Regions from separate parts of the Homo sapiens genome. Here region 1 is linked to region 2. The links come from fine-mapping of genetic effects on gene expression. A gene starts in region 2. The other region holds a variant in brackets. All regions are shown on one strand. Distances are between the middles of the regions. Region 1 overlaps SLC28A1 (solute carrier family 28 member 1). Region 2 holds the start of SLC28A1 (solute carrier family 28 member 1).

The links. PIP is the estimated chance that this variant, and not a neighbour inherited with it, causes the effect.
Region 1: its variant is the best candidate, but not a certain one, in a credible set for the expression of SLC28A1 in spinal cord (GTEx, PIP 0.60).

The regions. Positions count from the first base shown.
Region 1 is chr15:84,902,734-84,907,122 of GRCh38, reverse strand. It overlaps SLC28A1 (solute carrier family 28 member 1), which reads right to left. Exons shown (of 19, transcript NM_004213.5): 7 at 2,885-3,026; 8 at 1,471-1,584. Among named protein-coding and RNA genes, the nearest start is that of SLC28A1, 20 kb to the right of the region's middle. The variant T/C (reference allele first, on the strand shown) is at 1,852.
Region 2 is chr15:84,882,185-84,886,573 of GRCh38, reverse strand. It overlaps SLC28A1 (solute carrier family 28 member 1), which reads right to left and starts at 1,912. Exons shown (of 19, transcript NM_004213.5): 1 at 1,823-1,912. RefSeq lists enhancers at 1,832-2,332, 2,333-2,833.

The DNA.
Region 1 (4,389 bases), 21 kb before region 2:
ATCCCCAAATGCAGCATGACAGGCAGTCCCCTCAGCTGTGACCTTTATAAGGAAAGTGACCTTGAAACAACCAATCTGCTATTTATTTTCTGTTTCTGCTTTCTTCAGCCTTTCTCTGTCTATAAAGCCAACCTCCTCCACTCAACTCATCGGAACACCCACTCTATTTTTATAGAATGAGGTGTTGCCTAATTCTAAAATCACAAATAAAAGCCAATTAAGATCTTTAAACTAAATTTGTTCTAATTTTCTTTTGACAAAAGTAAATCATGATAGTTGCAAAACAAGTGTGCATGAATTTAATGATACTTAAAGGGGTTAAAATGGTTGATTTTATGTTATGTATATTTTACCAAAATAAAAAACAGAATTGGCTGGGCACCGTGGCTCAAGGTGAGATCACTTGAGCCCAGGAGTTTGAGACCAGCCTGGGCAACATAGGGAGACCCTGTACCTAAAAAAAAAAAAGAAAGGAAGGAAGGAAGAAAGGAAGGAGGGAAGGAAGGAAGGAAGGAAGGAAGGAAGGAAGGAAGGAAGGAAGGAAGGAAGAAAGAAAGAGAAAGAAAGAAAGAAAGAAAGAAAGAAAGAAAGAAACAAACAAACAAACAAACAAACAAACAAACCATGTTTTAATTAGCTTGGCATGGTGGCTTACACCTGTAGTCCCAGCTACTCAATACTGGGGAGGCTGAGGTGGGAGGATCACTTGAGCCCAGGATGTCAACGCTGCAGTGAGCCATATCCACACCACTGCACTCAGCCTGGATGTCAAAGCAAGACTGTCTCAAAACAAAACAAAATGGGCCCAGGTGTGGTGGCTTACACCTGTAATCCCAGCACTTTGGGAGGCCGAGGCAAGCGAATCGTCTGAGGTCAGGAGTTCGAGACCAGCCTGGCCAACATGGTGAAACCCTGTCTGTACTAAAAATATAAACATTAGCCAGGCATGGTGGTGGGAGCCTGTAATCCCAGCTACTGGGCAGGCTGAGGCAGGAGAATTGCTTGAACCAGGGAGGTGGAGGTTGCAGCAAGCCAAGATTGCACCACTGCACTCCAGCCTGGGTGACAAAGCGAGACTCCTTCTTGAAAGAAAAAAAAAAAAAAGAACAAAAATGTATAACTTCAATAAACGTTATTTTTAAACACACACACACAGAAGTAAATCATTTGCAGATTTGGGTTTTTTTTTTTAGCACTTTTAACTATTACAATTTCCAAGTTACTGCTGATTGCAGACCCAGCCTCTGGAAAGACTACTCTATTGGGACCTCAGTACCAGGCATGAGGGAAGTGGCAGCTGCACTGCCTGGTCCCCAGCTGCCCACCTGGTCTGGGGCCCCAGTCCACCCCACCCTCCAGGTCCCAAGCCTTCTCTATGGCCTCACCACCCACTTTTCCCCCTGCCAAGTGGCTTCTCCCCTACTCCCAGTAATCTAAGATGCTCTGGGCAGCCAGACCCCACATACCTACCCGGATCTGCTCGCCCAGCCACTCGAACGCAATGAATCCTGGTTCTGTTCTGATGACGAGGAGTCCAAGTACAAACTGCAGTCCAAGTCCCCAAGACACGGCCCTCCAGGACACCTACCACCCCACCCAACAGAAAGCTGAGTTCAGTTCCTTGAGGGATGGGCAGGGAGCCGGGTGGGGGTGAGAGCAGGGGGCATTGCCCTGCCCAGAGGATGGGGCTGGAGCCAGGCAGAGTACTAGGCCTGTTGCCAGTGGTCACACCCTCCCTGGGATTCAGAACAGGCCATGTGCTTGGTAGGAATGGGCCTGGGCAGTGAGGAGGGGTGGGCCAAGATTCTAACCAAGAACTCAGGTGAAACCGGACCAGCCTTGGGCATGCCA[T/C]GGCACTTCGTCTCCTGGTCATCACTGCCAGAGATGTGGCCTGGGGGTCTGGCCTCAGGATCAGCACCAGACTACTCTGGGCCCAGCTCCTCCCAGCTCGTGTGAACCCTGTCTGCCTGACCGTCTCCAATCTCTCCTCCAATAGGCTGGACTCCCAGCCGCCTCGACCCCGACTCTCTCCATGCCCACACCCCACGCCCCTCCTAGCAGACAAGAGCTGGGCTCCTCAGGTTGCTGTTCCTTGATGAGCATTTAATAATTCCTTAGCAGTGAGTCCAAGCTCAGGTGTGTATCATAAGCTCCTGGGAGGCTTGGCTGTAGCCTGGGGAAGGTGGTAGCCACACTGTGAAACAGGGAGGGATCTTATGCTATGGAGGCAGAGAGAGAGAAGATTCCATCTGCCTATGGCAGGGCCCTCCCAAATGGGTGCGTGGCTGCCTGAGTGTACATCAGAATTTAGTACACATCAGAATTTAGTACACATCAGAATTTAGTACACATCAGAATTGTGCTTGCTGACAGGATGATTGCTGCCCTTGCCCCTGAGTTTCTAATGCAGTGGGCCTAGGGTGGGGCCTAAGAAGTTACATTTCTGGCAAGTTCCATGGAGGCGCCGCTGTTGCTGGACTGGGGAGCAGACTTTGAGAAGCACTATTTTAAGCTAATGATTCCAGGAAACCCTTGGCTCTGCAGACAGGCTGGAGTTCTGGCCTGTGTTTTCTGTGGTTGGGGGTGGAGGTGGTTCCTGAGCCTACAGACCTGAAGACCAGGATTAGACTGACCAGAGGACATGTCACCAAGGAAACAAATGTCCTGGTGGCCTCTGAGTCTGGAAAGACATCCCTGCTGGGGATTTTGAAGACTTCTTCTTCACAGGAAGCCTATCCTGATACACACAGGCCTTCTCCAGGCCCTGAGCCTCCAGGGCTCTCCCAACAGGAACATCTGCCTATACCCCAGCTCCCAGATCCAGCCTAGGGGCAGAAGAGAGAGGCAAACACTTCCAGCCCTGGGCCCCACAACTAGCACTCACTGCGCAATGATGCTTTGAGCAGGCAAAGAGGAGAGCGACGAACACGCAGATTCCTGCGAAGGACACCAGTTGCTCAGGCCGCTGGGAGGTGTCCAGAGACAGCCACAGGACCAGGCCCAGGAAAGCAGCAAGAGCTAGACCCCTGCAGGCAAGAGACAGAAAGCCATTACCCTCAGCATTGCACCCCCACCCCACCCACACACAATAGCACCCGGGGACCCAGAGAAAGGGTGCTCAGGGCTGGGAGGAGGAGAAACAGCACAGCAGAGTGGAAAGAGCACCAGCTCTGGAACCACATGCTGGGAAGGGCTGACCTCGCTGTGTGACCTCAGGCAGATCACCTTGCCTCTCTGAGTCTAGTTTCCTCATGGGTCAAATGAAGCCAGAGACCCCTCATTTCTCAAGGTTGTTGAGAGGATTATATAAGGGGATATATGTACCAAGCTGAGCATAGTGACAAGCACCTGGCTCCATCCAGCTACAGGAATCTCACCGCTGCAGTGATGCTCAGCTCAGCCTCTGACCTTGGGGGAGAAAGGACCTGTGCCACCCAGGACTCAACACTACCAGCCATGACTGCAAAATGCCTAGAAGCATGTGATGTGAGTTTGGACCTCCAAGCTGAGCACCTGAGACCAAGGAACGGATCCTACCTTAACAGCAACACTTCCCTCCCTGGGGCTGGGATTTGTTTGTCCAGGATGCACCCTGAAGGGTGGGAGAATTCAGGTTTTGGCATCAGGTACTCAAGATCTCACCCCAATCCGGTCATCAATTCACTGGGTACTACTAATGACAGTTAACGTTCATTGAGCACCTATTATATGCCAGGTACTATACCGATGCGAGAGACATGTTCTTTTGATAGAGATGAGGAAACTGAGGCACAGAGAGGTTAAATAACTGGCCCAAGGCCACTCATCTAGAAAGTGGCAGAGCTGAGATTTCAACCCAGGCACTCTGGAAGCAAGGTCTATTCACTTAACTACAGTTTTATCCAGGCCGGTCCTAGCTGATAAGCAGGAGATCGAAGAGCTGAACTCAAGCAGGCTAATTCCAGAGCCTACTGCTTTTCTTTCTGCTCATATTTTTAAACTCTTCTCATTCCAGTTCAACATGCACAATCTTTGCCTTGTTTTTGTGCCAACTGTACCTCTCTTTACTTACTATTTCTCTTGAGGTTAACTGACTTTATAAGAACTCAAATGTGGCTGGGCGCAGTGGCTCATGCCTGTAATCCCAGTACTTTAGGAGGCCAAGGTGGGTGGATCACCTGAGGTCAGGCATTCGAGACCAGCCTGGCCACCATGGTGAAACCCCATCTCTACTAAAAATTCAAAAATTAGCCGAGCGTGGCAGTGGGTGCCTGTAGTCCCAGCTACTTGGGAGGCTGAGGCAGGAGAATCACTTGAATCTGGGAGGCAGAGGTTGCAGTGAGCCAAGATCGCACTACGGCACTCCAGCCTGGGTGACAGAGCAAGACGCCATCTCAAAAAAAAAAAAAA
Region 2 (4,389 bases):
CACGGTCTCAGGGATACAGGAAGCAGGCCCACTTGCAACCTGGCTCCCTGCAGCTCCTGCCCACTGGCTGCTGCTTCTCCATCAGAGATGCCCTCCTCTGCCCTCTCCCCAGTTCCCAAACTGACCTCTTCCAGGCCTATTAGGGCCGCTTCTTCCAGGAAGCCACCTATGTGATTATTTCCCTCCCCCTCCTTCCTTCCCATGGCCTCCTTTCCCCAGCCAGGCTGTTAGCTTTTTGCATTTTATCTTTCATTTTGCATCTTTCTCTATCTCCCTTTCTCACTAGATGGGGATTTATTATAACAGCAACCAATTTTCCTGTGCTGGAAAATGAGGAAAGCAGTGTAGCTGTGAGAAATAGTAAAAGTGTTTCAGGTCTGTCAAGAAAACAAAACCAAATCACACCATTTCCCCTTCATTTCATCTTTGTTAAATGAATACCTAAGCCAACGGTGTGCAAAGCGAAGGGCTGAATGCTTTAGTTTTCCAGTCCTCACACTAAACATTAAACTCATCTGACGGGATTCACAACATCTCTTTAATAATTAATGGTACGCGCTCAGGACAAAATCCTCTATGATGCATAAATACTTGCTAGTACCGGCACCTCCTGGTTGTTTTGGAAGTTTGGAGAGGATGGTGGATGGACACCCCCTCTTTTTGAAAACATTTTTTCTTCATCTGTCATTTGAATTACCAAAGCATTACAAGTGTATCATTAAACATTTAAACATTAGAGAAATATACAGAATGAGGGAAGTTAAAGTCCCCGGAATCTGAGCCCTCAGGGATGACCACTATTGAGTTTGTGTGGCATTTTCCTCCTTTTTTTTTTTTTTTTTGAGACGGAGTTTCACTCTTGTTGCCCAGGCTGGAGTACAGTGGTGCGAGCTCGGTTCACTGCAACCTCCGCCTCCCAAGTTCAAGCGATTCTCCTGCCTCAGCCTCCCAAGTAGCTGTGATTACAGGCATGCGCCACCACACCTGGCTAATTTTGTATTTTTAGTAGAGATGGGGTTTCTCCATGTTGGTCAGGCTGGTCTCGAACTTCCAACCTCAGGTGGTCCACCCACCTTGGCCTCCCAAAGTGCTGGGATTACAGGCATGAGCCACCGCGCCTGGCCTTTTCTCCACTTTTTTTTTCCTAAATGTATGTTATTTTATGTTATTCATTTTCCAATAGGGGATCACACAGTAACAGTGTTCTCATAATTTGATTTTTCTAGCAGAGTTCCGCACACTGTTGAGAGCCCATGTGTTACCTTGATTGAAAACTAGCCACAGAGCAAGACTCTACCTTTAAAAAAAAAAAAGAGGGGGGGCACGGTGGCTCATGCCTGCACTCCCAGCACTTTGGGAGGCCAAGGTGGGCAGATCACTTGAAGCCAGGAGTTCGAGACCAGCCTGGCCAACATGGTGAAACCCCGTCTCTACTAAAAATACAAAAATTAGCCAGGCATGGTGGCAGGTGCCTGTAGTCCCAGCTACTCGGGAGGCTGAGGCAGGAGAATTGCTTGAACCCGAGAGGTGGAGGCTGCAGTGAGCAGAGATCACACCACTGCACTCCAGCCTCGGCAACAGAGCGAGACTCTACCTCAAAAACAGAAAAGAAACAAAAACTAAATGCCTCTGAGCAGCACTACTGTCTCCATGGGTGGCCACCACAGGGATGGGCCTGGAGCTGTCCTCGAAGGGGTCTTCGCCAAGCCCTAGTGAAGAAAAAAAGGACGCTACCTGCTTTTCCACTTTGCCCTGTGCTACCCCCTTCCCCTCCTTTCTTCAGTCCCGCCTTCCCTCCTCTCCTACTGTCCTTTTCTCTCACCCTTGTTTCTGTCAGCATCCAGAGGGAAGCCAGGAACACAACACATCCAGCAGCAACCATGCAGTGCAGCTTATAACCTTCACATCGTTGTGGGCCCTAATCTCTACAACAAGGATTTAATGGGCTGTGTGTCTTGGGGTGGACCTTGAGCTTGGAGCCCAAAGGTCTCCACTCCTGACTGCCAAAGTTAACTTGCTGCCTCATCTGGTGGTGGGTAATAGAGCACATGAGGAGTCAGCGTGCTCCTGCTTAGGAAGTACCTGGCAGGGAGTCAAGCGGCATCAGGCTGGCAGGTGTCATTGCTGTCACAGGTCCCATCCGGGGTGTCCTGACACACTGCTCCCCTCCTCCAGGCCAGGAGACTCCGGGCTTCTCCCCTGCTCCTCCTCTCAAGGAGGCATGGCCAGCAGGGATCCCAGACCCCAGAAGCCAAGCGGTCTTTTCAGGTGGAATGTGGCAAAAAGCCACAGGCTGGGGAGTTGGGAGGCTGGATAGATTGGGGTGGAGACCCCAGGGAAAGACCAACAGCTGGAGGACCTCAGGTGTCCCGGCTGTGCCCCTCCAGCTGTGGGACCTCAGCATGTCCTTGGGCTTCTTGGTGGCCTGTTTCCTAAGGAGACAGCCTCTGAGGCCCGGCACACCCGCAGACGCCCGCTGAGTGAGACCTAGAGCTGAGCCAGGCCAGGGCAGAGTGGGGAGAGGACCACATAAATATACATAGATAATTTCCCTCACCATCCAGCAGAGCTCAGAAGGGTTGACAGTAAAGGGGCTGCTCCACCCCTCCAACTCTATCCCATTCCTCAGAGGCAACCACCTAACTTTTCTGGTTTTAGTTCTTCTGCAGGCCACCTCCTGTTTTAGGGAATTATTAGTCAAAGAGTTGGAGAGGATCCCTTCTCGCCAGGCTCTGACATAATAGGTTATTTTATAAGTAGTGAGTGAAACATTCAAAAAGCACAAGAACTGTCAGAAGAGTTGCTCAGCAATCTCTTTATTTTCTTCTCATGATTCTGCCCACACTCATTTCTTAGCTCTTCACAGGCGAGGTCTCTTTCATTGCATCGATTCGTGTATCCAAGCACTGGACAAATAAAGAGGCTTATCACTCGTCAAGTTCCATGAACATGACCTCATCATTCTTCTCTCCTAAACCTGGGATGATTGGCAGAAAGGGCATCCATACAACTTTTTCTTCTGCATTTGGCATTGAAAAATGGACTTCCCGTAGTCTGTAGTAGAAATATTGGAAAGTAGCAATAATCCTAGCACTTTGGGAGGCCAAGGCAGGTAGATCGCTTGAGCCCAGGACTTCAAGACCAGCCTGGGCAACACAGGGAGACCCTGTCTCTACAAAAAATAGAAAAAATTAGACAGGTGTGGTGGCGTGCACCTGTAATCCCAGCTACTCAGGAGGCTGAGGTGGGAGGATCATTTAAGCCTGGGAAGTCAAGGCTGCAGTGAACCATAATCACACCACTGCACTCCAGCCTGGGCGACAGGAGTGAGACCCTGTAAAAAAAAAAATTGATGACATAGAGCTAAATACAAAGACTAAAGAAATATCTTGGGCTTTTATACTCTTTGCTTGTGACTCTTCTAGTTTTCCTGTGGGAACGGACTAGCCCAAGTGTTAGAGCACACTGCTCTCCCGGCAACTACAGAGCTAGTTCAGCTGGTCCCAGGGGAAGAAAGCATTCCAGTACCCCAAAGGCTGGAAGCCCCCAGCCTGCTTGGCATGATTATCCAACGGTTTCCGATATAGTTTACTCCTTGACCCACTCTACTCACTGAGAACATCTGGGCACATGTGGTCATCATCCAATACAAAATGGAAGGCCGAGTCTGGGGCTCATCTACGGCAGCAACAAGAGGCCTGGTAGAATTAGGATGCCGGGTCCCACCTGCAGGAGTGCTTAAGGCCACCAGGCAGGGCGAATTTTACCCAAGCAGTTCAGAGCTCACTGTTCCCAAATATTTAATATTTAATTGATTGTACTTAAAAAGTGTATTTCCCTTGTTGTTCTTTTTACCTTCTATTCCTCTTGCCTCTCCAGCTCATATTAGCATTTTATTTATTCATTTATTTTTTTGAGACAGGGTCTCACTCTGTCTCCCTGGCTGGCGTGCAGTGGCGCAATCTCAGCTCACTACAGCCTCGACCTCCCACCAATCCTCCCACCTCAGCCTCCAGAGTAGTTGGGACTACAGATGTGCACCATACGCCAGCTAATTTTTTTTTCTTTTTTAAAAAATTTCATCCTGGTTGTTCTAATATTTATTTATTTACCTATTTTGTAGAGACAGGGTCTTACCATGTTGCCCAGGTCTAGAACTCCTGGGCTCAAGTGATCCTCCTGCCCCGGTCTCCCAAAGTGCTGGGATTACAAGTGTGAGCCACTGTGCCCAGCCTCATATCAGCTTTTCATATAGTGAGAAATTGAGATAGTTCCTTTTCAGTTTGATCCAGATCAAGATGTTCTGCAAACCAAGGGTCTTAATTCATGTTATGCTATTGGGTTCAGGGGTGATGTCCCTGTCTATTATAGGTTTTATACTAAAGGCTA